Linked DNA regions of Homo sapiens: regions 2, 3, 4, 5 and 6 are each reported to be linked to region 1. The links are microRNA targets in miRTarBase. Many come from high-throughput screens and were not tested one by one. Region 1 holds a microRNA gene; each other region holds the end of a gene's coding sequence.

Region 1 (5,000 bases):
GGATCCTCCACTCCAGAGCACCTGAGAAGGCCGGGACCAGAGGCCCTGTGTGATGTGTACTCCGCAGCTGTTTGGGGTGGGACATTTCTGTACTTCTCGATTTGCTTATGGCTCAGCCATTACCTGTGTCAGTCCATGATTCTGTTGTAACAGTTTTAAGAGTAAATAAATAAAGCTGCCTGATGTCCCATCACGCAGGCTTCGTGCTTCTGTCTCGTTTTGCATCTACCACCTCCCTGGATCTTCCTGCCCTCAGCTCAGCCCCTCAGCTGTGAACTTGTGGATGTGGACACGGGAAGGACCACTGTGCCACATAGCCCTGCGCCTTGGCTACCTGTGGAACTCTCCCCTAGTCTGCCTGATAAAGGGCTACTTGACACTTACTTGCTTACTTACTGTCCAAAACTACAAGGACAGTGACAGTTCTGACAGGCTTCCTGTGGTGGGTACCGAGAGCAGCAGCTGTGCCAGGGGACTGGGGTGGTTAACAGCACCGCTGCTTCATGCTCTTTCTTGGTGAAGGGAGGAGGTTCCAACCCCCTTCTCTCTTAAAAGACTTGGGGCCACAGCCAGCCCGTTCCCCAGCAATAAGCATCTCACTCTCTTCTCTACCTACCTTCCTCCTTCCTCTTTGGGGAACCGTGGCCCAGTGTATGGAGGCCCTGAGAGAGGAGCCCCTAGTGGACAGCAGTGGTCACAAGGGATAAATAGAACTTTATTTTAAATAAACATTTGCACTCTGTACACAGCCCCAGCAGAAGCAGGGCTCAGTCGTCAGCTGTCTTGCGCACATCAAAGCTGCCACAGGGTCCTCGCAGCAGCTCTGCCAGTAGCGCAAGCAGCTGCCCGTGCTCCTCCTGTACGCTGGGGGGAAGTGCAGCCAGCTCGCTGCGCAGGCTCCGCTCCACCATGCGGCCCAGGGCCCGCCGCAGCTCCTTCAGCAGCCGCACGGTACGCGAGTCACCCTCCAGCCGCAGCAGGTCACTGTCGCTCAGTGAGATGGTGGCCCGGCGCCCGTCATCTGAGGGAATGGAAAAGATGGTGGGGAACTGTGGTGAGGCCAGGCCCCGGAGGAGCAGCTGCAGAGCGGGGTGGGCGGGAGGCCTGCAGGCACCCACCACGGATGTGCACGTCCCCGTCGGTCAGCAGCAGCACAGCTAGCGGGTGCACCTGAGAGGAGTCCCGGACGAAGACGCTGCCATTGGACTTGACTGCCATGAAATACGTCAGCCATCGGCTCCGTAACCGTGTGGCCTCCCTAGGGAACACAGGGCTGGTGAGGCCACCCTTTTGGACCATCCCAGCTGCCCCATCCAGGCCTGCATGCCCTCACCTGTTAATGGTCGACTTGTGCAGCAGGATGTTGCCTGATTTGGTCCTATATGTGACGCTGTTGGGCTTGAACTTCCCCTGCCGGGTGACCTTGCCCTGCCTCACCTGCAGGGATGGAGGAAAAGACGGGTGGGGCTGAGCAAGGAGCTGCAGACAGGGAAGGAGGCTGGGACCTGGTGAACTCCATTCCCTCCCAGAGGCAGCACCTGGATGAGGTTGGGGTAGAGGCCGGCCATCAGCACGCCCTTCACCAGCTCCTCCTCCTCACTGTACTCGTTGCACTGGGCGGAGGCCAGGGTGCAGTCCGAGGGCTTCCCCACCAGGAAGGCCTCATAAATGTTCTCTGAGAACTGCTTGATGAGTCCTAGGGAGACAGAATGTGTGGTGGACCTACAGCCCCTAGCCACAGGCTGGAGGTGACAGAAACTCAGTGGGGGTGGGAGGGGCTCAGGAGAGCAGGTGTGGGCCCGACTGACCGTGGATGAAGCGCAGGCTGGGTGCGTACAGCAGGTTTTCCTCCAGGTAATTCTCCCGGGAGCTGCGGTCCTGCCAACGCAGCACCTCCTCCCAGCCGGCGACAGCCCGCACAAAGGCCAGGTGGTCACTGCCGCTGTCATGGCTCAACAGTGCTTTCACCTGGGAGGGGAGAAGAGGGCAGCCGGATCACAGGCAGGGGCTAGACAACGCCCCCTCAGAACAGCAGTGGGTGGACGGCTCCAGGAAGGAGCCAGGACTGACCTTGTCCACCTCTGCCCGGTTCTGTAGGCTGCTGCTGAAGGGGTCCCGGGTGAGGCAGGAAACGACCACCAGTAGTGGGTGCAGGCAACGGAAGATGGCAGCCAACACAATGGCCTTGGCCAACCGGGGGTCGGTGGAGATGTGAGCCAGGCGCTGCCCCAGGGTAGTCAGGTACTCCCGCTGGTCCAGCACCCCTGCAACGGCTCAGCTGTCAGTACCACCCTCGAGAGCCACTCCCCAGCCCAGCCCAGCCCAGCCCCTACATACCGATCTCCTGGAGCAAGATCACAGCCTCGTCCACTGCCTTGATGTTTGGACTGTCCACAGCCTTGGACAGGAACTCCACCGCCTATGACAGAGCCAGAGCCCGCCATGAGCCTGCCTCCCACCTGCCTGGTCCCCAGGCCAGCCCCTGCCCCGCCCCGCCGCACCGTCTTCTCAGGCATGTGGATTTTCGCTTGCAGCACCAGGTTCTCAAGAGGTGTGCGCAGGATCTCTGGCACTTGGAAAGGGACCATTTTCTCCAGCCGGCTTCGAGGGAACAAGTGGTAGGCAAAGCCGGACTGGCAGCGGCCCGCCCGGCCCCGGCGCTGGATCACATTGGCTCTTGATACCCACACTGTCTCCAGGCAGGACACCTGGAGGAGGTGGCAAGTAAGCAGCACACAAATGCCACTTCCTCAGTGCTTCCCCACTCCCTGAGTAACCCTCACCAGCCCCCTACATCAGGAACACTGAGACCCCACAAGCGCGGCCTTCTGAAGACACACAAAGCAGGTCTAAGGTAGATCTGGGCTGGGGACCACCTCAAAACGGAGTCCCTCCCCCAGTGGTTGGCCGGGCCCAGGAGGTAGGTGCCACCTTGGTCTTCAGGTCATAGCGTTCTTCCTTGTGCAGCCCACTGTCCACCACATGCACGATGTCATTGATTGTGATGGAAGTCTCAGCAATGTTGGTGGCCAAGACAATCTTGCGCACCCCAACTGGAGGCTGCTGGAATATGGCCTTCTGATCCATCATGGGGATGTTGGAGTGCACTGGTGGGCAAGACACACACCAGTTATGGGCACTGCTTCCACCAGAATTCCCCCCTGGAATGTGGGCAGGGCAAGGATTTTGACCCCATTTTGATGAAACAGGCGCAGATAAACACTATGCCCAGTGAAAAGTGCCACAGCTTGGTCAGAAACCGGGGCCCCTGGAGTCCCAGTTGGGTCAGTCCCTAGGACAGAGGTCAGGCTGGTTTCCAAAGGTCCCTGGTCCCTCCGCCGGGGCTCTCACCTGGCAGGATGAGGTACTTGCTCTCGTGCATGCCCAGGGCCTCCTGGAGGCGCTGCTGCACTCCTTTGATCTCCTGCCACCCAGGCAGGAAGCACAGGATCCCACCTGTAAAGGAGCCCTGGGGCATGAGCCAGCTGTTGCTGCAAACGTGGCCAGGGCTAGCATGGGACAGATGGGGAGGCACCCACCTGGTTCCCCGCGAGCATCGATGTGCAGAACCAGATCAGTCACAAGGTCCAAATCGAGTGCGCATTCATCCTCAGACTGGGGTGGGGGAAGAGAGGCCACAGTCACAGCCCCGGGGTAAGGGGTCATGCCAAGGACACAGCCACCTGACTCAGTGAGACGGAGCCGCTTGACATCAACTCCAATCCTCACGTGTGCCACGCAGGCAGGGTTAGTCCCCAGTTTCTATCAAGGAAACCGAGGACTGGGGAGGGTAACTTGCCCCAGGCACCAAGCCCCAGGGCCAGGGAGGAGGGGCATCCACGGAGGAAAGGCCAGGAGCCTTGGGTGGGATGGGGGTGTCCCTCACCTCATGGTGCCGGTGCCGGTGCAGGTACTGGTGCTTGCCCAACTTGGCCAGGATGTCCTCTAGGTAGTGCTCCTTGACTGGGTACATGAAGCCAGGCACCTTGATGACGGGGCAGCCACCAAAGTATCGGGAGAAGCGCTCATTGTCCCCTGTGGCACTCATGAGCACCAGCCGCAGGGCCGGGTTGAGCCGCTGCAGGCCCTTGAGCAGGATCAGCAGAAAGTCTGTGTTCACGTCCCGCTCATGCACCTCATCCACGATGACGTGGCTCACGCCCTCCAGGCTGGGGTTGCTCTGCAGCTTACGCAGCAGGATACCCACAGTGCAGAAGAGCAGGGCCCCGCCTCGGGATGGGGGCTTACTTTCCAACCGCACCTGGAAGCCCACATTCCGGCGCAGGGAGGGGCCCAGTTCGTGGCTGACCCGCTGTGCCACAGACACAGCAGAGATGCGGCGAGGTTGGGTGATGATAACATTGCAGCGGGCACCTCGGCCCTCGGTCACATAGCGCTCCAGCAACAGCTGGGGGATGCGCGTGGTCTTCCCACAGCCCGTGTCCCCAGAGATGACCACCACCGGGTGCTGCTCAATGGCGTTGAGGATGGTGTCCCGATGTGGGTCCACAGGTAGCTGGGGGGCCTCCTGCCAGACCGGCCCTCGCCGCCGCCACAGTTCTAGCAGACTCTGGCTGAGACGTACCTCCTCTGCTTCCAACAGGGGCACATAGGGCTTGCCTGTGATAGGGTCACTCAGAGGCCCTGAGTCCTTGCCCAAGGGCAAGATGTCATCACTCTGCAGCCGGAGTTCTGGGGCGATCCATGAACTCTCCACAGGGTACTGGAGGGCAGGGAGGCAAGCAAAACAATGAAAAAGAAATTCCTCATTCACACACAACCAGCCACTCTGCAGGATTCGCCTGGGTCAGATGTTGTGGCCCAACCCGCTGGGCAGAGGATTAATTTAGTCCATGACTGCCCCGGGATCCTTGTGGGCAAGACTGGGCTGTTCAGGCCAGGGGGATCCCAGGCCCCAAACTCAGTGAAGAGAATGGGGAGGTACTACTGCCTGTCGCAGGTGGAGGCCTTCAGTCTGGAGAGATGGAGGCAGACTACAG
Region 2 (5,087 bases), not on the chromosome of region 1:
GCTAATTTTTGTATTTTTAGTAGAGATGGGGTTTCACCACGTTGGCCAGGCTGGTCTTGAACTCCTGGCCTCAGGTAATCTGCCAGCCTCAGCCTCCCAAAGTGCTGGGATTACAGGAATCAGCCACCATGCCCAGCCTATTATTATTTTTTAAGACAGGGTCTTGCTGTATTGCCTAGGCTAGTCCTGCACTCCTGGGCTCAAGTGATCCTCCGGCCTTAGCCTTCCAAAGTGCTTGGATTACAGGCATAAGCCACCGTGCCTGGCCCAGCATCTATAAATATATAAAGGAGAATTCTCACCTGTGCCTTAACACCTGGAGGGGGCCGGGCGCAGTGGCTCACGCCTATAATCCCAGCACTTGGGAGGCCGAGGTGGGTGGATCACGAGGTCAGGAGTTCCAGACCAGCCTGGCTGAGATGATGAAACCCCTTCTCTACTAAAAATAGAAAAATTAGCCAGGTGCAGTGGCAGGCACCTGTAATCCCAGCTACTCAGGAGGCTGAGGCAGGAGAATCACTTGAACTTGGATGGCAGAGGTTGCAGTGAGCGAAGATCGTGCCACTGCACTCCACCCTGGGTGACAGAGTAAGACTCCATCTCAGGGAAAAAAAAAAAAAAAACCACCACCACCACCAAAAAAACACCTGGAGTGGGGATGACTACCTCACACAGACACACACACACACAAGAACTTATATATTTCTCCTATAGTGCTAAAACCAAAGATTTTGCCTAGCTTAAGAACCACATTGTCCAGCTTCTTTTGATATGCATGGTCATAAGAATATGTTTTGACCCTTTATATAAGGGGCAACAATGAGTACAGCCTACTGTATTGGTCCTTAAAGGAAAGGGATATATCTGTCCCCATTGTTTGTTTTATGCAGTCATAATACTACATACAAATCTATTCAGTGGTAATACTACATACAAAGGATGAAGGGCCTAGAACAGTATTGGATCACTTCAGTTAGCTGAGTTACAGCCTGGGTCTAGAAGACCTTTGGAGAAGCATACTGCTTCTGCTAATGCTAGTTTTTGGATTGCCAGGTCAACTTAAAATGTTAACTGTTTATGTTAAAGAATCTATTATCCTAGCCTTCTCTAATTTGCAGGTCTGATTTAGGTAACTCCCCCAATTGAGAGATGCCAGTACTATCTCCAAGAGCACTTTCCAGGTAACCTTTGTTTACCATGAGCCAAAGTGTGAAGTGGCTATTGCAAGAATGGCCAACTCACCAAGGATAAAAGCTAGAATTCAGTAGGCACTGATAAATGGTCACAGAAAATCTTTACCAAAATTTAAATTACAAAGAACAGAACTGACAGTTTTATAACTGATGTTTTAAATTTAAGTCATTTATTTTACAAACAGAGACTACCTATTATACTTAAGACATTGTGTTAGATCTTTGCCAAAGACATGGTTTAGTCATACTAATGTAATCCATTTTTTAACTTTCCATATTAATTTAATTTTTAATTCATTTTTCTTTATGCTTGCTTCAGGGGCTACATCTGGGACTGAATAGCAGCATATGGCCCAAGGGCTGTGGTTTTGCCACTCATGCTCTATACTCTAGTCTCTTCCAGAGTTGAGTATAGCAGTCACTATCTTAATACAGTGTGTCACTATTTTATTACCTGCAGAGAAACAGATTAACTTCCTTTATTTAATACTGATAAATAGAAAGGCTTTTTCAAGAAAAAAAAAGAAAGCTTACATTTACAAAAGTGATTTATGCTAATATGTGCCATTAACAAAGACAAATACTGAAATCCACACAAAATCAGAATTAACTTCTACAACTAAAAAAAAATTACAGGGTAATAAAACTGTAGGAAAAGCTGTATGTAAAAAGAAAAAAAGACAAGTCCCTATGTAGCTAATTACAAGAGAATATTGTAAATACATTCAAAAAGTTTTCCAAAAATCCTGCAGCCTCATCTAGAAACTGATACATGTTAAGATTCTTGATCTATACCAAATTATAATGTTAAAGGAAATCATGAAAACTGAGGTATATATTTGATGCATTAGAAACTATCATTTGAACACTATTTAAATAGTTTAATTATAAGGTCTAATTTCAAGTTAAAGTCTGTAAACGGAGATTAGTTTGGATTATATGACACAGGAGACAATAAAACATGTTCTCAAAGACATGCCAATACATTTTCTTGAAACAAAACCTCAGCAAATGAGAATTTTCATACTGTGCATGGGAATAACTAAAACCTTTATTAGATATGATTTTCCATTAACAATAATGTGAAAATTAGAATTATGAATTCAAAAAGCAGTGAAGTCTGAAAATTTAAAAAGTAGACTAGGTATTAGGGGATTAAAGGTAAAGGAAGACGAGAATGTTTCTTTAATACTATTCATTATTTCCCCTCTGTACACAATGTTGCATATATACAACTACTTCATTTTTATTGACTTTATATAATAGTGAAATCCCTTTAAGCAACCTAGGGTATACAGTTGGTGTCCAACTTTCAGGGGATTTTCGGGGGGGAGTAGAAACACTTGATTAACAGTTTTCACCCACACACGTTAGACAATTTTTTTCTTTTTTTGCCAAGATTTTAGTAGTAAATTCATAAATATAGGAAATACTTTCACTCCTTCAGTGTTAAAATAGAAAACCAAACAGTGCCAACAGTAGTGGCTTAATTATTGGTATACAAGAAAAACACAACAACAATGGGTTTTCTTAATTACGCATTTTAAATATCAATATGTGCATTTGTTTTTACAGTTATAAATTTTTTTCTCACCTGTTTTAGACAACAGCTTGTAATAGTTTTGAATCCATTAAGATGTTGCTTTCAATTTGAAATATTTTGTGTATACATGTATATAAAAAATAACCCAATGTATGACTCATCTGACCGATGTTTAAGATCAATAACGGCTTATTTTTCAACATGCAGTTAGGAAGAGAGGGAAGCAAGCCAACCTCTCTACAGTATCTTTTTGCTGGCTTGTTTTTGTAGTGGTATCAATAGTGGTTTTTGGAGGGAACCATGTGCCTTCAGCCTATCTAGTCAAGATCAGATACCACGATCAACAAGAGCGGTAGAAGAGATGGGGAAAGGGGAGTGGGTAAGTGTTAAATATCAATTTTGTAAAGTGTGCATTTTGTACTCCTTCTAGGCACAGGATTAAAAACAGGCCAATGAGGAAAAATTTGTTATAATTAGGAAAAAACTGCAATCAAATCAAGACATAATAGCCGAATTAAGTTCTTTTAATAGATTGCATATATAGATGTTTAGCCATACTCTTAGATCAACTCTTTAAGAGCAGAACTTTATATCCAATTTACATGCTCTAGATACCACCTTTTTTATTTTTTACAGTAAGGTCTGGTATTCAAATACCCACTTGTACACTGACAGCTTTAAGAAAAACAGGACACAGAGGGAGTTGTCATTTTTAGCAGCAATGAAATACCACTAACCCCTTTTTACATACCGAATTCAAGTCACTATCAGAGGTGAGTGCACCACAAAGTCACCAGGTACAAAATTGCTAGTTCATTTTTAAATTAATAACTTGAAATTACCCCTGCCCCCCACCCCATTACATCTTTTTATAAACAGCAAACATTTTGCTATTTTATACATAGGCTAGCAGGCTTGTTTCAATATGAAAGTGCTAATTCATTTACAGATTTTTATAATCAGTTATGTAGTGCTACAATAAATGTCCAATAATCTACATAGGAACAATGATGAAAATGATGAAGACTGAATAAGGCTATCAGATGACCTTATCTTATTTACATATAAAGAATAGATACCCAATGGTGAGGAAGAGACAGAAATTGGACAAATACTCATAGGTGTAAAAATTACATCTACCTTTGAGTTTTATACTGTAAATGAGACATTTTAAATAGTCCTGTAGCCCATGCCTATTTTTTCCTCAGAAAAAGAAAAGCTGCCTTCATGACATCCCCTCGTTTCAGATTTCCACAGTGTCACTTTGAAGCTTCAGAGTCAGGATCTTACTTTCTTCAAAAAATAAAGAAAATACTCCCTCTAAGGTACCTCCCATCCCCCCCCACCCCCAAAATCCCGCTGATTTCTTTTCCAGTGCCAGGTTGCATGATCAGGTCCCATCTCCTGGGGTTGTTGTTTCTTTTGTCCATCTATTGATTATTAGTTTAGAATAGATAACATGAACCAGTTCTGGAACCACTACTAGGAGGAACACAAGCTCTTCACTACAAGCACACAGCAGGAAAGAAAGAGATAACTCAATTCATCCCTGGTGCTGGGCCTCCAAAATTGAAAGAACTTGGCACAACTGGAGCACTGAATTTGTATCCTCCATGCTTCTCAATCATTTTGGATTCTAGAAAACAAATAAAATTTTAGTAGGGCATTCAATCATCTACTAACTTGGTGAGAAACTGACAAAACATTAAACAAGCCAGTAGCTTAACCATCATTAGTGGCCAGGAAGTTCCAAAATCCATGATTTCTCCAATGTATAAGGGCAAGGGAGCATGCATTATGTAGAGAATATAATCTCTTTTACTGTATGCTGTAGACTTCTTAGCCAATTTTCACTTCCCACTGTTAAGAAAAAAATCTTTTTTTTTTTTTTTTTTTGAGACAGAGTCTGGCTCTGTCACCCAGGCTGGAGTGCAGCGGCACGATCTTGGCTCACTGCAATCTCTGCCTCCCAGGTGCAAGCGATTCTCTCCTGCCTTAGCCTCCCAAGTAGCTGGGACTACAAGTGCGTGCCACCACGCCCGGGTAATTTTTTGTATTTTTAGTAGAGGCAGGGTTTCACCATGTTGGCCAGGTTGGTCTAGAACTCCCGACCTCAAGTGATCCATCCGCCTCAGGAGTCAGGAGTTTTTGAGACCAGCCTGGCCAACATAGTGAAACCTCGTCTCTACTAAAAATACAAAAATTAGTTGGGTGTGGTGGTGCGTGCCTGCAATCTCAGCTACTCGGAAGCTGAGGCACGAGAATCACTTGAAATCGGGAGATGGAGGTGGCAGTGAGCCGAGATTGCACCACTGCACTCCAGCCTGGGTGACAGTGTCACTCAAACAAAT
Region 3 (5,087 bases), not on the chromosome of region 1:
AGTCCTGATGCCTGGCACAGGTCTGCCCATGGCTGAGGATGACTCTAGGACAGTCACTTCCTGTCTGGGCCTCAGCTTCTCAGATGTTAAGGCCCGCCATCTCCACCATGTGTCTTTATAGGATGTATAGATAGAGAAGGCCTGTGTTTACCTATTTGCACATTAGCTCTTTGCCTTGGTCTTGACATTTTATTTTTATTTCATCACTTTGTTGCATGTACTGTATTTTTGTAAAAAGATTCAGGGTGTAAATAAATAACACATTCACCATTTCTTCCATAGATCCCAGCTCTCCTGTTGGCTTCGTGCTTGGGGTAGATCTTCTTCACATATTCCCCCTGGAAGGAGCAACTTTTCTGTGCCCTGCTGACGTGACTGACCCGAGAACCTCACAGAGAATCCTCGAGGTGCTTCCTGGCAGGAGAGCAGATGTGATTCTGAGCGACATGGCGCCCAATGCCACAGGGTTCCGGGACCTCGATCATGACAGGCTCATCAGCCTGTGCCTGACCCTTCTCAGCGTGACCCCAGACATCCTGCAACCTGGGGGGACATTCCTTTGTAAAACCTGGGCTGGAAGTCAAAGCCGTCGGTTACAGAGGAGACTGACAGAGGAATTCCAGAATGTAAGGATCATCAAACCTGAAGCCAGCAGGAAAGAGTCATCAGAAGTGTACTTCTTGGCCACACAGTACCACGGAAGGAAGGGCACTGTGAAGCAGTGAGGATTTCTTGTGCCATTTTCATAATGGTCATTAGCTCCTTTTAAGCTAGAAACGTAGCCTGAGCTCCTGAAGAGTTCCTGGGAGATTTGAGCTGATTTTGGAGATGGAGCAGGACAAGTGGGGAGTCTCTCTCTCTCTTTCTCTCTCTCTCTTTTTAACCAAAAAGAGATGACAAAACTAAGTTCAGGGGCCATGGAAAATGAAAAAGTCCGCTATATTGTGATTTGGGAAGAGAAAGTTATCAAGAGAAAGAGGTGAGGATGGAAGGATGGAGAAAAACAGACTGTGGGAAGGATCAGAAGGAATCCGCCGAGGCAGGGATGGGTGTGCCCATGTGTGCCTTGACGGGACTTCATCTTATAGACTGTTAAACTGTCACACACAAACAGGCTTTCCACCCCTGCTCTGAGAGCACCACGCACAGATTTCCAGTTCTTAGTGTGGCTGTTTAAAGTAGAAAATCTGGGGGCTGGGTGAGGCCACTCATGCCTGTAAACCCAGGGCTTTAGAAGGCTGAGGCTGGGGGATTGCTTGAAGTCAGGAGTTCAAGACCAACCTGGGCAACATAGCAACACCCCCCATGTCTACAAAAATGAAAAACCAAAAAGCAAACCAAAAGAAAAATCTGAAATTTCCATCTGGGGATTAACTTCTGTCTTTCTGGTGAACAATATAGCAATTCACGCATTCTTCAAGCAGCAAAAGTTCCCGGAACAATTAGGGAAGACGTATGGTCTGAATTTATCCAGGCAGTGGGTCTGCTTTGGTTTTTGCTGGAAATTTATATCAGTGTCTGGGCTCCCAAGAACATAAATGTAATTGCCAAAGCAAGCAGTGATGTGGTGTGTTTATTTTCTTTTACTCATCTAGGAACTTGACGCAGCTTTATATTTAATAAAATAATAGAGATTGCATTATTTTAAGGTACTTTCATGCTTTGAAGTTTTGTTTTTTTTAAACTGGCTTCCTCAAAGCCATTTCCTGGAGGTGTACTCATCCCTCAAGAAGAGTTTGTTGACTATGATTAAATTCCAAGGACCAGTGGGGGAAGTCTGGAAACCCAGGAATCTCCATCAGGAATCTGGGGCTCTGTCCAGCTCCCCGAAGGAAACTGCGGGTCAGATGTTTTGATTTTTTTTTTTCTTTGAGAAACAGAATCTCACTCTGTCACCCAGGCTGGAGTGCAGTGAAGTGATCTTGGCTCACTGTAAGCTCCACTTCCCGGGTTCACGCCATTCGGCCTCAGCCTCCCGAGTAGCTGGGACTACAGGCGCCCATCACCACGCCCGGCTATTTTTTTTTTTTTTTTTTGTATTTTCAGTAGAGACGGGGTTTCACCGTGTTAGCCAGGATGGTCTCGATCTCCTGACCTCGTGATCCGCCTGCCTCGGCCTCCCAAAGTGCTGGGATTACAGGCGTGAGCCACCGCGCCCGGCCGCCAGATGTTTTGACTTTTCATTTTATTTCTGGTTGCAGTCAGGTTGTTAAGTCCAGGGACTCTTGCCCTACTCCACCTCGTTCTCTTATTCCATTTCATTCCCGGGGCACACAACTTGGAAGTCTTTCTCTGAAAGAAGGAAAATTCATTGCAGACCCTTAGGAACAGCATCTTCTTAGAGGGAAGCCAGGGGCTGGGCAGAGACGGGAGGAGGAGAGGAAGAGAATATGGAAACGAGTAAGGCACACTCTTCTCAGGAAGGCTCCAATTTGAAGGATAGACAAAGGTTACCATAATAATGGTGGGGCCTGACCTCACCCCATTGGATGCTGTGCCCTGGCTTGCAGAGCACTGGGAAGGTAGCCTAGTAGCATAAATTGCATTTCTAGTGGGCCCAGAAAAAAGCAAAATAACGGATTGATTCAAGCTGATACTGAGTAGCAAAATTTTGGGAAGAGTCAACGGTGCAAGTTTGTCCGAGGAGGCTGCCGTGGGCGCGGCTATTCCACACATTACGGCGCGAGGCGAAAGCCTTAGTGGAAGCGCGTCCTGCGCAAAGCCGGGGGGCCCCCGACTGCGCCTTGGCTCAGCCTTCGGTTCCGAGTCCTTTCCGTGCGGAGTCTCCCAGGGGTGGCGGCTCCGGGTGCGGACGCGGAGTCCCCAGGATCAGCCGGTGCGCAGACTCGGTTCTTTACGGCCCGATTGCCACGCAGGTCTCGCGAGAGCGCAGGCGCAAGTGTCGCGATAAATGGGCGCCGGCGGAGCGGAGGGAGATCCGAGCGGCGGCGGCAAGCTGGCTGCGAGCGGCTGAGGTAAGCGGCCCGGCTCGCGCGGGCGGCGGGGTCCCGGGGTCCCGGGGGTCCCGGGAATGGCAAGGGAGGGGCCGAGGGCCCGGACCGGGTGTGCTCGCCAGGGTGGGGCACAACGACCCAGACCCCGTGCCTCAGGACCCCGCGCCCGCCCCGTCTCCCATGGGCGCGCTCTCCTCTCTGTGCTCTCCCCTCCTCTCCCCACTCCCCTGTCCCCACTCCCCCTTTGGGCTGTGCTGGGGACAGCGGGCCCCTCGCCTGGGTCTCCGCAGCCGTCCCTTGTGCCAGGGCGGGCGGCCGAGGGGCGCGTGCTCGTGGTCCCAGCCCCGGGGTCCCGCTGCCTACCGTGTGGGTCCCCGGGCTAGGGTGCCGGCGCGCCGAGGAAGGGGCCTGAGCTGGCGCCTGGTGGAGAAGTCGGGGCTGCAGGGGCTCTTGGCATCCTGGTGGCTCGCGCCGGTCCGCTCTCAGGAAGGGGGCGTGTGGGCCCGGTTTCCCCTCGGGGATGGCAAGGGCCACCCTGATCTCGTTTGGGCAATGGAGGAATTGGGCTGTGGAGCCTCCTTCCAGGCGGGCCTGCCTCTGCGGGGCTGGCAGCCTGGGGAGCTCAGGCCTCTGCTTGCACCAGGCCAAGGTTCTTGTTAAATGGAAACTCAGAAACTGTGCAGCTGCAGAAGTTCTACCTTTGGCTTTTAAACGCGCTTGGCTGTTCCCTAGTTGTGGCTGGTGGGCCGGCCTGCCATGAGCCCATAGTAAGCGCCGGTGTTGGGGGTGCAAAGTTCTTTACTGCGGTTTGTCTTCAGCCTTCCAAAGCCAGACAGACCCAAGTTCCAATCTCCGTTCTGTAACTTTTTGAAGCTTCGGTTTCATCATCTCTAGAATCTGTGTAAAAAGACCTAATTCACCACCCTGTTGAGACTGAGCTTACAAATATAGTGCTGGTCAACCTGCAGCCGTATTCCCATCATCTAGCGGTGGAAGACTTGAGGGATATTGGCCCCGTTCCCCACAACTTTGCAAGTAGATTTCACTGTCATGAGTTTACAGATGAGGAAACTGAAGTTCAAGAAGTCTCGGTGCTCGGAAATGTCAGATACCTTTCTTTCTGATACCTAGTTGAAAATAGTAGTAGTACTTATTAATGTCACTAGAAATAAACAATGAAAATGAGCACAGCTGTGATGATCATCATCTTTACTGTCACTGTTGCATGCCTCGTTTCTGATTCCCAGAGGCCAGATTTTTTTTTTAATTAATTATTATTATTTTTTGAAACGGAGTCTTGCTCTGGCACCCAGGCTGGAATGCAGTGGCGCGATCTCAGTTCACTGCAACCTCCATCTCCTGGGTTCAAGAAAATCTCCTGTCCCAGCCTCCGGAGTAGCTGGGATTACAGGTGCACGCCACCACATCTGGCTTTAGTAGAGATGGGGTTTCACCATGTTGGCCAGGCTGGTCTCGAACTCCTGACCTGTGGTGATCTGCCCATCTTGGCCTCACAAAGTGCTGGGATTACAGGCATGAGCAACAGTGCCTGGCTTATGTTTATTTATTTATTTATTCATTCATTTATTTATTTTGAGACACTGTCTCACCCCGTTACCCAGGCTGGAGTGCAGTGGTGCGGTCTCAGGTCACTGCAACCTCTGCCTCCCAGTTTCAAGCGATTCTTGTGCCACAGCCTCCTGAGTAGCTGGGATTACAGGCGCACACCACCACACCCGGCTAGTTTTTGTATTTTATTAGAGGTGGGGTTTTGCCATGTTGGCCATTCTGGTCTTGAACTCCGGACCTGCCTCCGCCTCCCGAAGTGCTGGGATTAGAGGCGTGAACCACCCTGCCTGGGCAAGAGGCCAGACTTTGCTGTGAGTGCTCCTGGTAGGTAGTTTCAGGCATCAACTGACTGGATTCAGGAATTCCTAGAAACCTGGGAAAGCATCATTTTTGGTTTTGGGTGTGCCTGTTGAGGGTGTTTCCAGAGGAGATGAGCTTGGGAGTCTGAGTGGACCAGGTGCTGAAGATCCATCCTCAGAGTCAGGGGCAGTATCTAAGAGCCTGGGGGCCTGGAGAGGACAAAAACAGAGAAAAGGCGAATGTGTCCATCTGCCTGCAGGAGCT
Region 4 (5,087 bases), not on the chromosome of region 1:
CCACAGACTGAGTGAACTGGGCCAAGTCATTCCCGTGTTTGGAGATCCCCCTGCTTGGGTGAGAAGGAGGTCTTGATGCTGTTTGAACATGCTGTTTACTTTAGTGATGTAATCTTGCTTCATGGGATAACTTTAAAATCCAATTTCAGATCAGCCCATGGTCACGAATCTTTCCCACTTTCCTTTGACAGAAACCCTGAACATTGTCCTTGTGGGGAGAAGCGGGACTGGGAAGAGTGCGACCGGGAACTCTATCCTGGGGAGCCTCGTCTTCACCTCTCGGCTCCGGGCCCAGCCAGTCACCAAGACCAGCCAGAGTGGCAGGAGGACATGGGACGGACAGGAGGTGGTGGTTGTGGACACTCCTTCCTTCAACCAGATGCTGGATGTCGAAAAGGACCCATCCCGGTTAGAAGAGGAGGTCAAGCGCTGTTTGTCCTGCTGTGAAAAAGGGGACACATTTTTTGTCCTGGTGTTCCAGCTGGGACGATTCACTGAAGAGGACAAAACAGCTGTGGCGAAACTGGAGGCCATCTTTGGAGCAGACTTTACGAAATACGCGATTATGCTGTTCACCCGGAAGGAAGACCTAGGGGCGGGGAATTTGGAAGACTTCATGAAGAACTCAGATAACAAAGCCCTTCGGCGCATTTTTAAAAAGTGTGGGCGGCGAGTTTGTGCTTTTAACAACAAAGAAACAGGCCAGGCCCAGGAAACCCAGGTGAAAGCTCTTTTAACAAAGGTCAATGATCTGAGAAAAGAAAGTGGGTGGTCCGGGTATCCCCATACACAGGAGAACGTCAGCAAACTAATTAAAAATGTCCAGGAAATGTCCCAAGCCGAAAAACTCCTTAAAAATTTAATAGGTATTTTACAATAGGTAGCCGAAGTGCCTGGGGTCTCTTCAATTAGAGACACCCTCAGGTTGGGGGGAGGGGCGGGGCATGGTACAACCTGTGGGAAGGGAAGCGGGTTCATGGCTTTGAGGGCCTGAGAGGCAAATGCATCCCGCCTTGTGATGTATCAGCTATTTGTAGATAAATAAATTGCAGGTGGGGGCGAATAGTAGGGTATTATAAAGGAGAAAGAAGATACAAGGTGGGGAAATCTGGAAAAAGATTTCAGACATTAGGCTGATAATAAGTGGTAGAATCAAGTCACAAGAATCACCTCACTTGTGTAGGTAGGTTGGAATCAGGATAGACACTGTGATCAAGGCTGAGGCCACCTGGGATGAGAATATAGATAGTCGTACAACAACCCAGGGGATCCAGATACATGAGACCAGGGCAGCGTTCAGCACACTCCTGGGCATGGCGGAAGCAGGAAGCAGACTCCAGAGGGCCTCCCTGTTGTCCAGGGCCGTTGGCTCCCTGAGCTCTCCTGTCTCCTTTGGGATGCGACTTAGGGCTAGAGTGTTCTTTTCTTCACACGTTAGCCATTCCTTACGGCTCTTCACGTTCCACGCCTAGATGTGAAGTGGGACATAGTCTTCCATTGCTGGCTGTCCCTGAGGAAACAGACATGAGTCTTGGAGGTTCTGAATGATTTTATTGCTAATTATCACAGTGACATAGACTAGAACAGAAATTAGAAGCATAGTAAGATTGCCAAAATCAGAGAATCTTGCAAAGTTCTGTAATTCTAAGTGTTGTTCTAGATTTCCTCTAGAGAAGGTTATTAGAATCTCCATTGCGTTTCTCTTTCTCCTTCTCTTTCCCTTGAGGTTAGGAAACAGGTTAAAACTCAGAGAACTCCAATAATAATGGTTTAAAAACATCAGGGGCTTCCTGTATCTCCTGTCAGGAAGCCGAGGAATAAGCAGGCTGGGGCTGGTGGGCGTCAACATCCCAGTTTTGTTCTATCTTTCTGTCCCACCTGCACTGGGATGTGGCTTCTACACTCGAATTTGCTTCTTGGTTTCAAGACAGTGGTGTTCTTTCCATAGCTGAGCAGATTATTTTGAGAGGTGGGTGATATGTGAGAGAGAAATCTGGAACCTTCTTCTGGGTAGATACAGGATAAGATAGATACAGGGTAAAATGTTGAGCACTTTGTACATGCTTTGAGAGCATAATCTTTGTCATCTGTTTTTTTCCCCTAGACAATATCAGGTTACCGTCAACATTAATCCATTTAAAAGGACATGGACTGTTGCCATTAATACTTTTGGATTCCATATAACCCTTAACACAATAACTTCTAGAAAATGTGTGTGCCGTAGACACAAAGAAGGGAACAATAGACACCAGGGTATACTTGAGGGTGGAGGGTGGCAGGAGGGTGAAGATTGAAAAGCTGCCTATTGCGTGTTATGCTGGTTTCCTGGGTGACAAAATTACCTGTACACCACACCCCTGTGACACACAACTTACTCATGTAACAAACCTGTGCATGTACCCCTTGAACCTGAAATAAAAATTGGAAAGTAAAAAAAAGTGTGTAAATATATTTAGTTGAATCAAATAATAAAGATGAATCATTATGAATTCACATTCTCTTTCTGATTTCTATTTTTGTGATTTAGGGAAGCAGCATACCTTCATGAAGAGACAATTGAGATGTTTAGATACCTTGACTCAGGCGAGGTTTTTGTATCTTTGGTGCCTGAGGACCTTCATTTAGACTGGGTGACAGCCATTTGTGTGGCAGGTCCCTGACAGCTCAGTTATCTTTCACTCTGGACATCTAAGTATAGCAAGGACAAATAAATGTAACCAGTATTAGAACCAGAAACATGGGAGGAATAAGGTCTGAAAGGCATTTTGTGCTTCTTCCCTGAGCTTCCCTTCTGCCTGAAGGCAGAAACAAATCCCAGTGTGCTACCTATGGCTGAGCAGGTGACACTGGGAGCTGCACAAGGTGGGTGATGTGTGGGCTAAGCAATGTGGCATCCTCTCACAGGTTGGCTCTAACATACCTTGCTGTTTTCCTTCAGGTCCAAGTCTGAACGGGGCAACAATACTGCTGTGTCAGTTTCTCTGAGAAATACATGCCGAGAAAGAGTTAGGAGCACAAGAGGTTTATGGGGAAAGCTCATGAAAGACAAAAGAGGGAAGAAGCCAAATTGGGCAGGGAAAGCCTTCAGACTGTCATTTAGACTGGACACTTGCAAGAGAAAAGTGGGGAGGAGCTGAGTTGGGCAGGAAGAGCCTGGCAAAGCCCAGGCCAACTCAATAGGGAATTCTGGGGCAAAGACAGATTAATAGCCAAGTCCTGCATTGGACAGACACTAGGAGCTCTGCTGTGCTCCGCTTTAGGCTGGGGACTGGCTGGAGAAAGCATGGCTTCAGCTCAGAAGCTCAGATGGGACCTGACAGTGTTGCAGCTGGAGCTGAATGGCAAGTTTCTTCTTGAAGTGAAAGCCTTCAAGAGTGGCATCCCTTCCTCACTGCCATAATTGGCGGACATCCTCCATGTCTCACTGAAGACCCTCCTTGAGCTGGAAGTCCAGAACTGATATTCTACTCTCTCAAACATATGTGTCTTACCAAGGCCACTATCATGCTGGCCACCTATTGCTTGTCCTGCCTCTCCAATGTGACATCATTGAGGTAATGTGCTAGTTCTCAACTGGAAACAATTTTGCCCTGTAGAAGACATTTGGCAATTCCTGGAGAAATTTTCTTTTTCTTTTTTTGGAGACGGAGTCTTCCTCAGTCACCCAGGCTGGAGCGCAGTGGTGTGATCTGGGGTCACAGCAAGCTCCGCCTCCCAGGTTCATGCTATTCTCCTGCCTCGGGCTGCCGAGTAGCTGGGACAACAGGCGCCCACCACCACGCCCGGCTAATTTTTTTTAAAAATTACTTTTAGTAGAGATGGGGTTTCACTGTGTTAGCCAGGATGGTCTTGATCTCCTGACCTCGTGATCTGCCCGCCTTGGCCCCTCAAAGTGCTGGGATTACAGGCGTGAGCCACCACACCCAGCCTCCTGGAGAATTTTTTAGTTGCCACAACAGGGAGTGGGTGCTACTGGTATGTGGTAAATAGAATCCAGGGATGCTACTGAACATCCTAAGATGCACACGACAGTCCCCCACAACAGAGTTATCTGGACCAAAATGTCAATAGTCCCAAGGCTGAGAGACCCTGATACAGTGGACCAATGTGATAGACTGCAGGATGTACAGATGATCCAGACCTCTTTTGGTTAGAGAGTGGGAGAGGTAACTTCTAAGGAAATGTTTTTTGCCTATTTACAGTGCCTCTGTTTTGCTGATGCACTAAGAACATGCTTATTTTTCACAAAGGGTCATCCAGCACCCCCAGCCTCCTCTCCTTCCTCAGAGCAATCCTTTTCACTTCATTTCTCTCTTTTCCTGCACTGAGCAAGATTTACTGAAGAACAAGGCTTTTGTGATGAACTTAGCATAAAGAGTAAAAAAAAAAAAAATAGTTTCGTGATTCCATGACGACAGAAAGTCCCATAAAATTTGGCTAAATTTCTGCAAGGGAGTCAGCTAAGTTGCTGACATGATCTGTGAAGCCTGCCAGCAAGCTCACTTCCCTAGAAGAATCCCCAGGCCACTTGGCTATGAGCCTCTTCTCCTCCTCCCTCAAATGAAGCATCCACCTTTTCAGTAAAAACCCTCTCCTTCCTAGCTCATCCTTACATTAGCTTGTTCCATGGGCCCACTGGTCCAGCCTCTACCACTAGCACACTATCATCCTCCCTAGCAGATGAAGGCATCGGCAGGCCCACCTCCCGTTCTCCCATGAGAGGCAGCTTGATGTTCATGAGAAACCTCCGTGGCCTTCACTCTTGCACCTCTGTATTTCTGTGAATACACACAGGATGTGCTCAACAGACTGGTGTAAAATCTAGTTGTGAACAGCATGATCAGCATGATACATTTTCCTCTTCAGCTACAAACTTCCTGTTTATTGCTCTTCACTTCACATCGTCCTCATGTATGTTGGTGGGTGGTAGTGTGGCGGGCTTGCGTTTCCTGACCCACAGATTATAGGGCAGCGTGTAGGCTAGACTAAAAGGGGTCAAGCCAGGGCCAAGGTGTCATGCCTAAAAGACCCTCTGGGAATATACTTGTAATTTGTCCTTCAAAAATCATCAGTAACCTGAAGTTTAA
Region 5 (5,087 bases), not on the chromosome of region 1:
TGGAGGGTTTCCCATCTGCACACAATCCTCTTTCCAAATAGCTACAGCTAGCCAGACGCAGTGGCTCACACTTGTAATACCAGCACTTTGGGAGGCCTAGGCGGGCAGATCAATTGAGGCCAGGAGTTCAAGACCAGCCTGGCCAACATGGCAAAACCTTGTCTATACTAAAAATACAAAAAAAAAAAAAAAATTAGCTGTGGTGGCGCATGTCTGTAATCCCAGCTACTCTGGAGGCTAAGGTGGGAGAATTGCTTGAACCCACGAAGTGGAGGCTGCAGTGAGCCGAGATCGTGCCACTGTACTCTGCACTCCAGCTTGGGTGACAGAATGAGACTCAAAAGAAAAGACAAAACAAAGACCAAATAGCTGCAGCTGTTGTGAATTGAACATTCCCCTATTTCCTTTCCCTCTGCAATAATGTGTAAAGGACTTGGAGTTTGAAAAAGAAAAACAGAAAAACCCGGCCAGTTTAATCCTAGTTTTCAACCCATTTGTGTCACAGACCCCAAGAAGGAAGCCATTGGCTTCATGAGTATCAACAACAGTTCTCAACAAGTTGTCCTAAATATGACCACGCTCATCTGGAATCACTTTAAAAAGTATCTAACTTAACAAATGACTAACTAGAGCCACCGTGGGCAATGGTGCTCACCCACACCACACTAGAGGAATAGGACTTCAAGTCCAAGTGCCCTGGTGCCACCAACAGCAACTTAGAATTAAGCTGCTCTTTAAGGACAAGCCAAAGCAAGCAGATGGGCCACACCACATCCTGAAGGCATGTCTCATTATCATGCCTTGGCTTCTTGGACGTGTAGGGTCACCATTACTCAGGCCAGGACTTCCCAGAGGCCAGTCATGAAGCTCTCCTCTGGTGACACTGTATGATTCACAGTTAAAGCAAAAGACAACTCCATGCCTTCCCATTTCCTACCTCATTCGTCACCCAAATACTAGCAGTTTCTTCCAACTGAGACCTCCAGCTACAACTTCAGCCCATTTCCCTAATCTTTAGCAGAGAAGATAAAACCACCATGCTTCATTTCTCCCCTCTGGATCCTAAGTTCATTTGAAAAATGGCTTTCATTAAGTATTTGGTAATGAAGATTATCTTTTTTACATATTGCTGCATTTGGTTTAGGATTTTTGCATCTATGTTTATGGGTGAGGTTTACATGTATTTTTTTCACTATCCTTATCAGGGTTATGCTAGCCTCATAAAATCATTCTTTAGGCCATAAAGTCGTTTTTTACGTCTTGCCTATTGAGCTAATCGAGTTGCTCCTGAGAAGACTTCCAATTTCCTGGCTACTAGAGTTCTAGCAGCCAAGGATGGCAAGAAGATTCAGAATGTAAATGCTCACTTAGGGGATTCACCTGACACCTAGACTACACACTTCTTCTCTCTCCAGAAAAGAAATCTCTAATGCACTGATGAATGGAGGAAGGGCATCACCAAGCCGGTCGGTATAGGAAGGGGACCCAACAGACATTCAACTCTTTGGTAACCCTCCCTTCACGCCCAATTCCAGAATGCTTTCTGTTGCTACCATATCTATGCTTTTCAGGGGATTATGCACTGTAAATTGATTTGCTTATCACTGGCTTTCTCCACCACTGGCTCAGTGAGATTCAACTTTTTCAGCTCTGCTAAATCTTCCAAGGTCTCCATCTGCTTTCTGGGTTCAAATATTTCATTGGCTCCTCTCCTGGTCTTCCCGAGCTTGTGGATTTGTCTTCTAAACAAATCCCTTTACTGTTGCTTTTGAGAAAGTTGAGAGTATCTTCTATTTTTCTAATATTTGCAGCATCTATAATATCCTTTTAATTCCCTGTGTACTTAAAAAAATTAATATTTGTCAATTTTTCTTTAAAAGAACCAACTTCTGGCTTCGTTGATGCTATGCTTAATTTCTGTGCATATCTACTTCCTTTAGGTTTATTTTGCTGTTCTAATTTCTTGAAACAGATGTTTAGCTCAATTTTCAGCCTTTATTACATCCTAGTATAACTTTGATATTTAGATTTAGAATTTACATTCTATTATTCAGAACTAATTAAAATTCTATAATCTTAATACATTAATGTAATAATTTAATGCTGTAAAACCTTTAAATTACTGTTGCAGCTGCATCCCTCGTTTTGACATATTTTTATTATTGTTCAGGTTAAATTTCCTTCATGATTTCTTCTTGGACCCATGAGTTAATTTCTAAACATACAGAGGTCGTCTTGTAATCTTTTAATTTTGGTTTCTAACTTAATTGCACTGTGGTTGGAGTGTGGTCTACGTGGTAACAACCCTTTCAAATTTGTTGAGATTGACTCTACCGTCCAGTATATGGTCGCTTTTTGAAAAAGTTCCATAGGTGATCAAAATGAATGTGCAGTTGTTAGATGCAATTTTTTTTTTAACAGGTTTATGCTCGGTCATTGGTTTCCACACATCTGTGCTTTCAGGATGAAGATGTGGTCTTCTAAACACGTCCATTTTACCAAACTTGCTAAATGTTTAAATCTCTTATATACTTTCCTGAATTTTTTGTTGCTTGGTCTACATGAAGCATATTAAAATCTCCCACTATGATGCTGGATTTCTTATTTTTCCATATAGCTGTTTTTGTTTTACATATTTTGAGGCAATGTTATTAGGTGCATAACTTAGAATCTTTGTTTTTCTGAAGAATTGGGTAAGCATATCATTATGTAGTGGTTCGATCTGTAGTAATGCTTTTTGTCTTAAAGCCTATTTCCAGGGCTGTGGTGTTCCACAGCTCCAGGGAGGACATTCACATTACAGTTTATGCAAATAAACTGAAATTAGACAGTCTGTTTCGTTACTTTGGAGTGGCCTTAATTCTGTGGGTTATGAGTATAACTTCTCAGTTTTATTTTGGTTAGTATCTGCCTGATGTATCTTTTCCATCCTTTCTTATATTGTAGGTTGCCTATGTCTCTCTCTTGTCATCACATATGGCTGGATTTCTTTTAAAAATACAGTTTGGCATTTTTTTTTTCGGGAACATTTAGTCCATTTACATATAATTATTGGCACATTTAGATTTCTCTCTACTATCTTGTTTTGGATGCTCTATTTGTCCTGCCTTTTCTTTACCCTATCTTGTCTTCTTGACTGATTGCATTTTTCCATTCTATTTATTCTTGATTGAAAACTGTATCCTCTGCTTATTTTTAGTAGATACTATAGAAGTTTTTGGCACAGGTTTACATACCAAAGTCTGAAGTTAAACAATGTATTTATCTTCTTCCTGAAAGACACAAGGATCTTAGAGTATGTTCATTCCAATTACCTCCCCTCCCTAGTTATCTGCTACCTTCATGGATTTTCGTTTTACCTTTTTTCCAACCCTGTTAAGACTCTTCTACAGTTGCTTTTTGTGTAGCTGACCAACATAACAATCATGTTCTTTATTCTACATTCCTTGATACATTTCAACCCTTCCATACTGATCACTTCCCTTCTGTTGGGGCAAATTCAGTTTTTTTTGTGAAAATGTTTTCTATTTTACCCTTGTTCTTGAAAGGGTGGCCCAATCTCAGTAAGATAACTTACTGACCTATTCTAAGGCTGGGCCCAACAGAGCCTCACTCCCCACCCTTGTAGGGACCCTGGATCTGGGTAGAACATTTATGCGGTAGGGGAACAGTCCTTCTTAAACAGGCGCTTGGAAGCCCTTTGCAGATGCCGGTGAGAATCGGCGGTCTGGGAAAGAGTACACATCTTGCAGAGAAGCTGAAGAGGGAAGCCCTTTTCCTGTTTTTTCACTTTCAAGAACATGAGCCACCTGGCTGCTTTCTTTTGTAGATAAACAAACACTTCTCAGACAGATCACATAAATCAGCTTATTCTCATTTAGCAAAGTTTTTATTCAAAAGCTTCTCAGCACCATCTAGTTATCAGAAAGAATGGATATCACCTTTTCCTGCCCACCCAATCCCCAGTTCCACAGGCAGAAGTTAAACCATTTGGCTAGAGTTCCCCCTAATGATTATGACTGAGACCATGATAAGATTTTGGTTGTTCTCACCCAACTGTCTCTAAGCCTCTACTCAAACCTGACTCAAGCAGAGATGTGCACACCCCACAGTTCAGAACAGGAAGGAATCATGTCAGATCTGATCAACCTCCCATTCTTGGGCTATTAGAGGCACAAGAAATTACCTTGAAAAAATGGAATTCAGTGACTGCCATCTAGGAAAGACAGTGATACTGTCCAGCAGCATGCAGTTCCGAGAGCTCAACTCTTAGGCCACCCTCCCTCCACTCTACTCTAGGAACAAGGAGCATTAGGTCTGTTTTCTCTCCATACACCTCAATCGCTCGTCCTCTCGTCTTATTAAAACACAGACACAGAACCAAACTTTTTGACAGTTAAAGACAAACAATTACATCTAATTAAAATGCTAAGAGATCCTGAGCTGTTAGAGATGAGGAGAGTAGATAGTATGACCTGATCTTCCCCCCTCTTTTTTTTCCTTTAACAGTATTCTGTTTCAGCATAAAGCACACTTTCTGAAGAGGTTCCTGGTGGAGACTGGAAATCTGACTGTGTCCTGTGGCAACACACAGTCCCTTGCATAACTTTGGCTTCAGTCCCTGGATCTGTCCTTTGCAGCTACGTCAGGTTCCATGGAAGGAGGAAAGAGCTGGAGGGCAGTATCACTCAGCCAAAGCTCCCATGGGGTCCCATGCTGGCAGGATAATGGGTTCCTGCTCTAACACAGCTAGCACCTCTTCAGGGACATGCTTCCTGTCCACCACCACTTCGTAGACATACTCAGAGAACCACTCATCTGTCATGCACAGGTAACCTGGAGAAAAGAACAGAAGACTTATGAGTCCAGAGGGCAAGGGACAAAGAGCAGAAACCCTTTTTGTAGGATAAACCTTTTACAAAACTAATATTCATACATATTTTTCAGCTTTCCCATCTGTAATTTCATTTAATCTAAATCTTATTAGCAATTCTGTGAAGCAGATAGGACAGGCATGGCTCTATTTTTAGAAAAATTAGAAAACCGGGTCTTGAGTAACTAGGTGATGTGCCCAGGTCACATGGTGA
Region 6 (5,087 bases), not on the chromosome of region 1:
GGGACATGGAGGCCCTGAGAAGTACCCTTCAGACTATGGAGTCTGACATCTACACCGAGGTCCGCGAGCTGGTGAGCCTCAAGCAGGAGCAGCAGGCTTTCAAGGAGGCGGCCGACACGGAGCGGCTCGCCCTGCAGGCCCTCACGGAGAAGCTTCTCAGGTCTGAGGAGTCCGTCTCCCGCCTCCCGGAGGAGATCCGGAGACTGGAGGAAGAGCTCCGCCAGCTGAAGTCCGATTCCCACGGGCCGAAGGAGGACGGAGGCTTCAGACACTCGGAAGCCTTTGAGGCACTCCAGCAAAAGAGTCAGGGACTGGACTCCAGGCTCCAGCACGTGGAGGATGGGGTGCTCTCCATGCAGGTGGCTTCTGCGCGCCAGACCGAGAGCCTGGAGTCCCTCCTGTCCAAGAGCCAGGAGCACGAGCAGCGCCTGGCCGCCCTGCAGGGGCGCCTGGAAGGCCTCGGGTCCTCAGAGGCAGACCAGGATGGCCTGGCCAGCACGGTGAGGAGCCTGGGCGAGACCCAGCTGGTGCTCTACGGTGACGTGGAGGAGCTGAAGAGGAGTGTGGGCGAGCTCCCCAGCACCGTGGAATCACTCCAGAAGGTGCAGGAGCAGGTGCACACGCTGCTCAGTCAGGACCAAGCCCAGGCCGCCCGTCTGCCTCCTCAGGACTTCCTGGACAGACTTTCTTCTCTAGACAACCTGAAAGCCTCAGTCAGCCAAGTGGAGGCGGACTTGAAAATGCTCAGGACTGCTGTGGACAGTTTGGTTGCATACTCGGTCAAAATAGAAACCAACGAGAACAATCTGGAATCAGCCAAGGGTTTACTAGATGACCTGAGGAATGATCTGGATAGGTTGTTTGTGAAAGTGGAGAAGATTCACGAAAAGGTCTAAATGAATTGCGTGTGCAGGGCGCGGATTTAAAGTCCAATTTCTCATGACCAAAAAATGTGTGGTTTTTTCCCATGTGTCCCCTACCCCCCAATTTCTTGTCCCCTCTTAAAGAGCAGTTGTCACCACCTGAACACCAAGGCATTGTATTTTCATGCCCAGTTAACTTATTTACAATATTTAAGTTCTCTGCTTCTGCATTTGGTTGGTTTCCTGAAGCGCAGCCCCTGTGAATAACAGGTGGCTTTTCATGGATGTCTCTAGTCAGAGAAAAATGATAAAGGCTTAAATTGAGGATTAACAGAAGCAGATTAACCTCAGAAATCCTGTCTGGCTGGCAGATTTCAAGTAAAAAAAAAAAAAAGGTGGGTTGGGGGGACCCTTTTCTTTCTAGTTGTCTTTAAGGAAAATTAATTTTACTTTTTTTTTTGTTCTGGCCGAAATTTTTATGAGATATCTCTCACTTGTCTTCCACTTTGAACCGGTTAAAGCTCATAGCTGTCAGCTCTGAATGAGGAGGGGAGAAGCCCCTGGGTCTTTCTTTGAAAGGAATCCGCTGCTTGAGGGCTGCCTCCCTCATGGTGTGCGTGTCGTTTCTCTTCCTGACGCATCTTGTGATATCAGAGGTAACTATGCAAAGCATCCAGGCGGTTCTGAATGTGAAGCACTACACCCAGCAGAGTCCCGGTGCCCTCTGTCCCCACTGCCGGCCCATGTTCTCTCTCCGGAGGTCACCAAGGAATGCACAGGTTTCGACTACCAGAAAGGGGAGTCCTTGGGTTCTTTCAAAAAATTCGTGAGGAGAGCTGTCTACAGTGGAATAGGGGGTCTCCCTGGGGAATGCAGGCCAAGTCCTTTTATTTTAACATGATGTCCATGAAGAGGTTTGCCGTCTGGGCAGCCCTGTCGGCAAGGAGCGTGCATACTGCGTTTGTGTAATTGTTTGCTGTATCTCCCTTCCCTCTGAGCTGTATTGTTCTTTAATGGCTGTCTTGCCCTTCCAAAAAAAATTGAAAAAAAAAAAAAAAAAAAAACCCGAAAAGTAAAAAAAAAAAAAAAAAGTTTTGTTTAGTTTACTGTGAAATGAACTGTATGGCTTATTTACAGTATTTTTAATTCTTAATAAACACTTGAGCTTTGTTATGACTTTTCCAGAGTGGTTACATTCTGAGAATTTCGTAATTATGATGTGTTTTATTAGCACATGGTATAAACGATTAGCAAATAGGTAAGTTTACTATTTTAAGGCTGTTTTTTCTTTTAATTCTGAAACCGAGATGGCCTCACTCTTGGGCCGGGGACCTCCTTTGATGGACTGTTAGCAAGTGTGTTCAATGATTACTTGTCTCCAGCTCTGTTAGCTTCAAGCACAGGATCTCAACCCTCACTACCTATTAGAATCTTCCTAGGAGCTTTTAAAAAATGCCTGGGCCCTGCCCGCACAGATGCTGATTGAATAGGCATAAAGAGGCTGGCACTGTTTTTTTTTTTTTTTTTTTTGAGACAGAGTCTCGCTCTGTCACCCAGGCTGGAGTGCAGTAGCAGGATCTTGGCTCACTGCAAGCTCCGCCTCCCGGGTTCTGGCCATTCTCTTGCCTCAGCCTCCTGGGTAGCTGGGACTACAGGCGCTTGCCACCACGCCCGGCTAATTTTTTGTATTTTTAGTAGAGACAGGGTTTCACCGTATTAGCCAGGATGGTCTCAATCTCCTGACCTCGTGATCTGCCCGCCTCGACCTCCCAAAGTGCTGGGATTACAGGTGTGAGCCGCCATGCCTGGCCAGCACTGGTATTTTAAAGGCTCCCTCTCTGATTTTAATGTCCAGTCAGGGTTGAGAACCAGTGTCTCAGACCATCTGAGTGACCTTCAGCCCTAGTGCACACCTGGGCTTGTTTCCTTCTCTGGATTGCCTTCCACCCTCCACCCAATAAAAACCACATGCTGTTTATTGAGTACCTGTGTGCCAGGTCTTGTGCTCAGCATGCATAATAACCTGTTATTCCTTCTTACAGTCCCCCGAGGTAGGCAGTATCATTTCCCATTTCACAGAGGAACAGCAGGCTGAGAAGCTTCATACAAGGTCATTCATTACGAAGTGGCAGGGCTAAGCTTTGGACCTCATCCTTGCTCTAACTGGGACAGCATCCTCTACCGTCCACTGACACCAGTGCAGGTCCATTTGGCCTGTGGAATATCTGTCCTGTTCCAGAGCCCAAGGCTGCAAGAGATTTCTTCTTTCCCACCTAGGGAGTAGAGGGTGGCTAGGACCTGAGGTCCTGTGGCTTGATGTCCCCCTTTCTGGCTGAAAGGCCCCTCATCTCTGAATTGCTGTCAGTCACTCTGGGTCCCTCAAAGCTTCACAACTCAGAGCTGGAAGTTTTTTCCAAAGCAGTTAGCAAATCAGGACAGGCTCTGTAAATAATTTCTATTTTTATTTCAAAACCATTTTACTTTTTATTTTAAAGTCTTAAGTATTGACATGTATGCTTTAAATGGCTACTTTCACCCACTTGGGGAGGGTGCGGAACAGCATAAAGTCGCAGGCATGGAAAAAATTAAATTCATTTCCTTTTCAGGCCAATTGGTTGCATTGAGTATGTTCTTGCTGTTTCTCCTGTCATTTCTGCAGTTGCTCATCTCTGACTATGGAGTGGTTTAATAGATTCTCATTAATATTATAAAAGAAAATATTGACAAGTGTCTGATAAATATAAATTCAAGTGGTGAAAATAAAAGGAATATATTAGGAATTCACATATTTCTGATGGTGGGGCAGTTAGAGTTCTTACACCAAATAATGCAGCTCAGTCTTGTTTCTTCATTCAATATAGTGTTCATTCATTCAATAAACATTTATTGGGCTGATAGCCAGCCATTTTGCTAAGTATCAGTGAATTAAAATGTACAGGACTAGCCCAGTGGGAATGACAGTCATGTAAAGTGGTAGGTATTAGAAATACAGGTGCCATACTTGGGTGTATTGGGCCAAGAGGAAGGAGTGACCATTGTGCCATGGTTGGTCTAGAGGTGGTTAGAACAGGTTTTTGAAGGGCTGGGGGAAGTCCCTTGGAATGCTTTCATGAGTAATGGGAAGCTTCGGGAAACAGGTTGTTTTGCCCTTTGAACAAACAATATACACAAATTACTGAACATGTTGGTTAAATTGCAGATCCAGCACCAGGATAAGAGGCTGCAGTGAAACTTCTCAGGCAGGACTGACAGCACCCTGGTGAGGAGACTACTACACCACTGACCATGTGGCCTTGGGCAAGTCACTTAGAATGGTGATGGTGTTGATAATAGAGATGATGGTGGAGATGGAGATGATGATGGTGGTGATGAAGATGATGTGATGGTACAGGGTGGTTGTCAGGACTGAATGAGCGTGTTGAGGGGTTAGCACAGAATCTGGCACATCATAAGTGCTTCAGTGATCATGCGTGCATGGATCATACCAGAGGTTAAAATGTTGAAATACTGTTGTCCTAGTTGGTGAATAGCTTCTGCCCTGAACCCCCTGCATGTCCTCTCTCTGGACCACTATACCTCTTTACAATCCAGCAACTAATAGGTTAATATTCTAGTATAGCAGAGACCACAAGACTCTGCTCCAGCCCCAGGGCCTGCATTTGTTCTGATGGGTGGGTGCCCATCAGATTAAATATTTTGAAGTTATCCTTCCTTGTGAGCTCAATAATTTGTGTGTGGGTAAGATTTGTTTCAAAGAAGTGACTATATAATGAGGTGGTAAAACTTGAACCCAGTTCTAAAAGATAGGTAGGGTTGTCAGGTACCAGGCAAAAGGTACTGGGTTTGAAGTAGTCAGGAGAGTTGAGAGGCTGAGCACAGTTCTTGCAGTTGGAATAGAGAAAGCACAGGTGGGGAGTCGGGTGGAGATGGGGTAGGAGGGCTAATGGGGCCAGGACCTGGAGGCCTTGCATGTCATCCCTGAGAGTTTGGATCTGAACTATGAGGAATAAACAAAAGGGTTTAAGTGGGGCAGGGGAAGTAACCATGGTCAGAACTGGGTTCTAGAGTGCCCCCGCATTGGCAGGATTGGAGGAGAGCAAGGGGAGGGCAGGTGGACATTGGGAAGTCGTGGTCCAGGCTGGGTCCGATGTGCCCTGAGGATGAGGGTTGTAGATGGATGTCAGAGATGTGCCAGGTTAGATGCTGCTGAATGCATGTGGGGTG

What was found. The annotated mature microRNA hsa-miR-1226-3p reads UCACCAGCCCUGUGUUCCCUAG and lies in region 1 at 1,259-1,280, opposite strand. An mRNA with a match to its seed (bases 2 to 7 or 8) in the 3' UTR can be bound and repressed. Matches are read on the target gene's strand: a 7mer-m8 pairs with bases 2 to 8, a 7mer-A1 pairs with bases 2 to 7 and ends in A, and an 8mer does both.
Region 2: miRTarBase lists IPO7 as a target of hsa-miR-1226-3p. Seed matches in the 3' UTR shown: 7mer-A1 at 3,527-3,533.
Region 3: the mRNA of MRM2 is a reported target of hsa-miR-1226-3p. Seed matches in the 3' UTR shown: 7mer-A1 at 1,386-1,392.
Region 4: the mRNA of GIMAP8 is a reported target of hsa-miR-1226-3p. Seed matches in the 3' UTR shown: 7mer-m8 at 1,832-1,838.
Region 5: the mRNA of BLMH is a reported target of hsa-miR-1226-3p. The part of its 3' UTR that is shown has no 7-base or 8-base seed match.
Region 6: the mRNA of CKAP4 is a reported target of hsa-miR-1226-3p. The part of its 3' UTR that is shown has no 7-base or 8-base seed match.

The regions. Positions count from the first base shown.
Region 1 is chr3:47,845,888-47,850,887 of GRCh38, reverse strand. MIR1226 (microRNA 1226) reads right to left here and starts at 1,333; the gene lies at 1,259-1,333. It overlaps DHX30 (DExH-box helicase 30), which reads right to left. Exons shown (of 22, transcript NM_138615.3): 11 at 3,887-4,723; 12 at 3,540-3,615; 13 at 3,352-3,456; 14 at 2,932-3,107; 15 at 2,502-2,708; 16 at 2,338-2,419; 17 at 2,071-2,264; 18 at 1,809-1,968; 19 at 1,539-1,696; 20 at 1,334-1,437; 21 at 1,119-1,258; 22 at 695-1,021. The coding sequence ends at 768. It overlaps MAP4 (microtubule associated protein 4), which reads left to right. Exons shown (of 21, transcript NM_001385682.1): 21 at 1-193. RefSeq lists a silencer at 3,616-3,717.
Region 2 is chr11:9,444,382-9,449,468 of GRCh38, reverse strand. It overlaps IPO7 (importin 7), which reads right to left. Exons shown (of 25, transcript NM_006391.3): 25 at 1,342-4,372. The coding sequence ends at 4,275. Among named protein-coding and RNA genes, the nearest start is that of ZNF143-AS1, 14 kb to the left of the region's middle.
Region 3 is chr7:2,230,760-2,235,846 of GRCh38, reverse strand. It overlaps MRM2 (mitochondrial rRNA methyltransferase 2), which reads left to right. Exons shown (of 3, transcript NM_013393.3): 3 at 283-1,652. The coding sequence ends at 725. It overlaps MAD1L1 (mitotic arrest deficient 1 like 1), which reads left to right and starts at 2,902. Exons shown (of 19, transcript NM_001013836.2): 1 at 2,902-2,975. RefSeq lists enhancers at 1,517-2,049, 2,784-2,913, 2,699-2,993 and silencers at 2,628-3,006, 2,984-3,403.
Region 4 is chr7:150,476,901-150,481,987 of GRCh38, forward strand. It overlaps GIMAP8 (GTPase, IMAP family member 8), which reads left to right. Exons shown (of 5, transcript NM_175571.4): 5 at 192-2,493. The coding sequence ends at 880. Among named protein-coding and RNA genes, the nearest start is that of GIMAP8, 29 kb to the left of the region's middle. RefSeq lists an enhancer at 1-1,194 and a silencer at 2,645-2,879.
Region 5 is chr17:30,244,333-30,249,419 of GRCh38, forward strand. It overlaps BLMH (bleomycin hydrolase), which reads right to left. Exons shown (of 12, transcript NM_000386.4): 12 at 3,871-4,836. The coding sequence ends at 4,685. The region is part of intron 2 of LOC105371720 (a long non-coding RNA gene); the gene reads left to right. Among named protein-coding and RNA genes, the nearest start is that of SLC6A4, 11 kb to the left of the region's middle. RefSeq lists an enhancer at 4,125-5,087.
Region 6 is chr12:106,234,833-106,239,919 of GRCh38, reverse strand. CKAP4 (cytoskeleton associated protein 4) reads left to right here. Exons shown (of 2, transcript NM_006825.4): 2 at 1-2,039. The coding sequence ends at 896. Among named protein-coding and RNA genes, the nearest start is that of CKAP4, 11 kb to the left of the region's middle.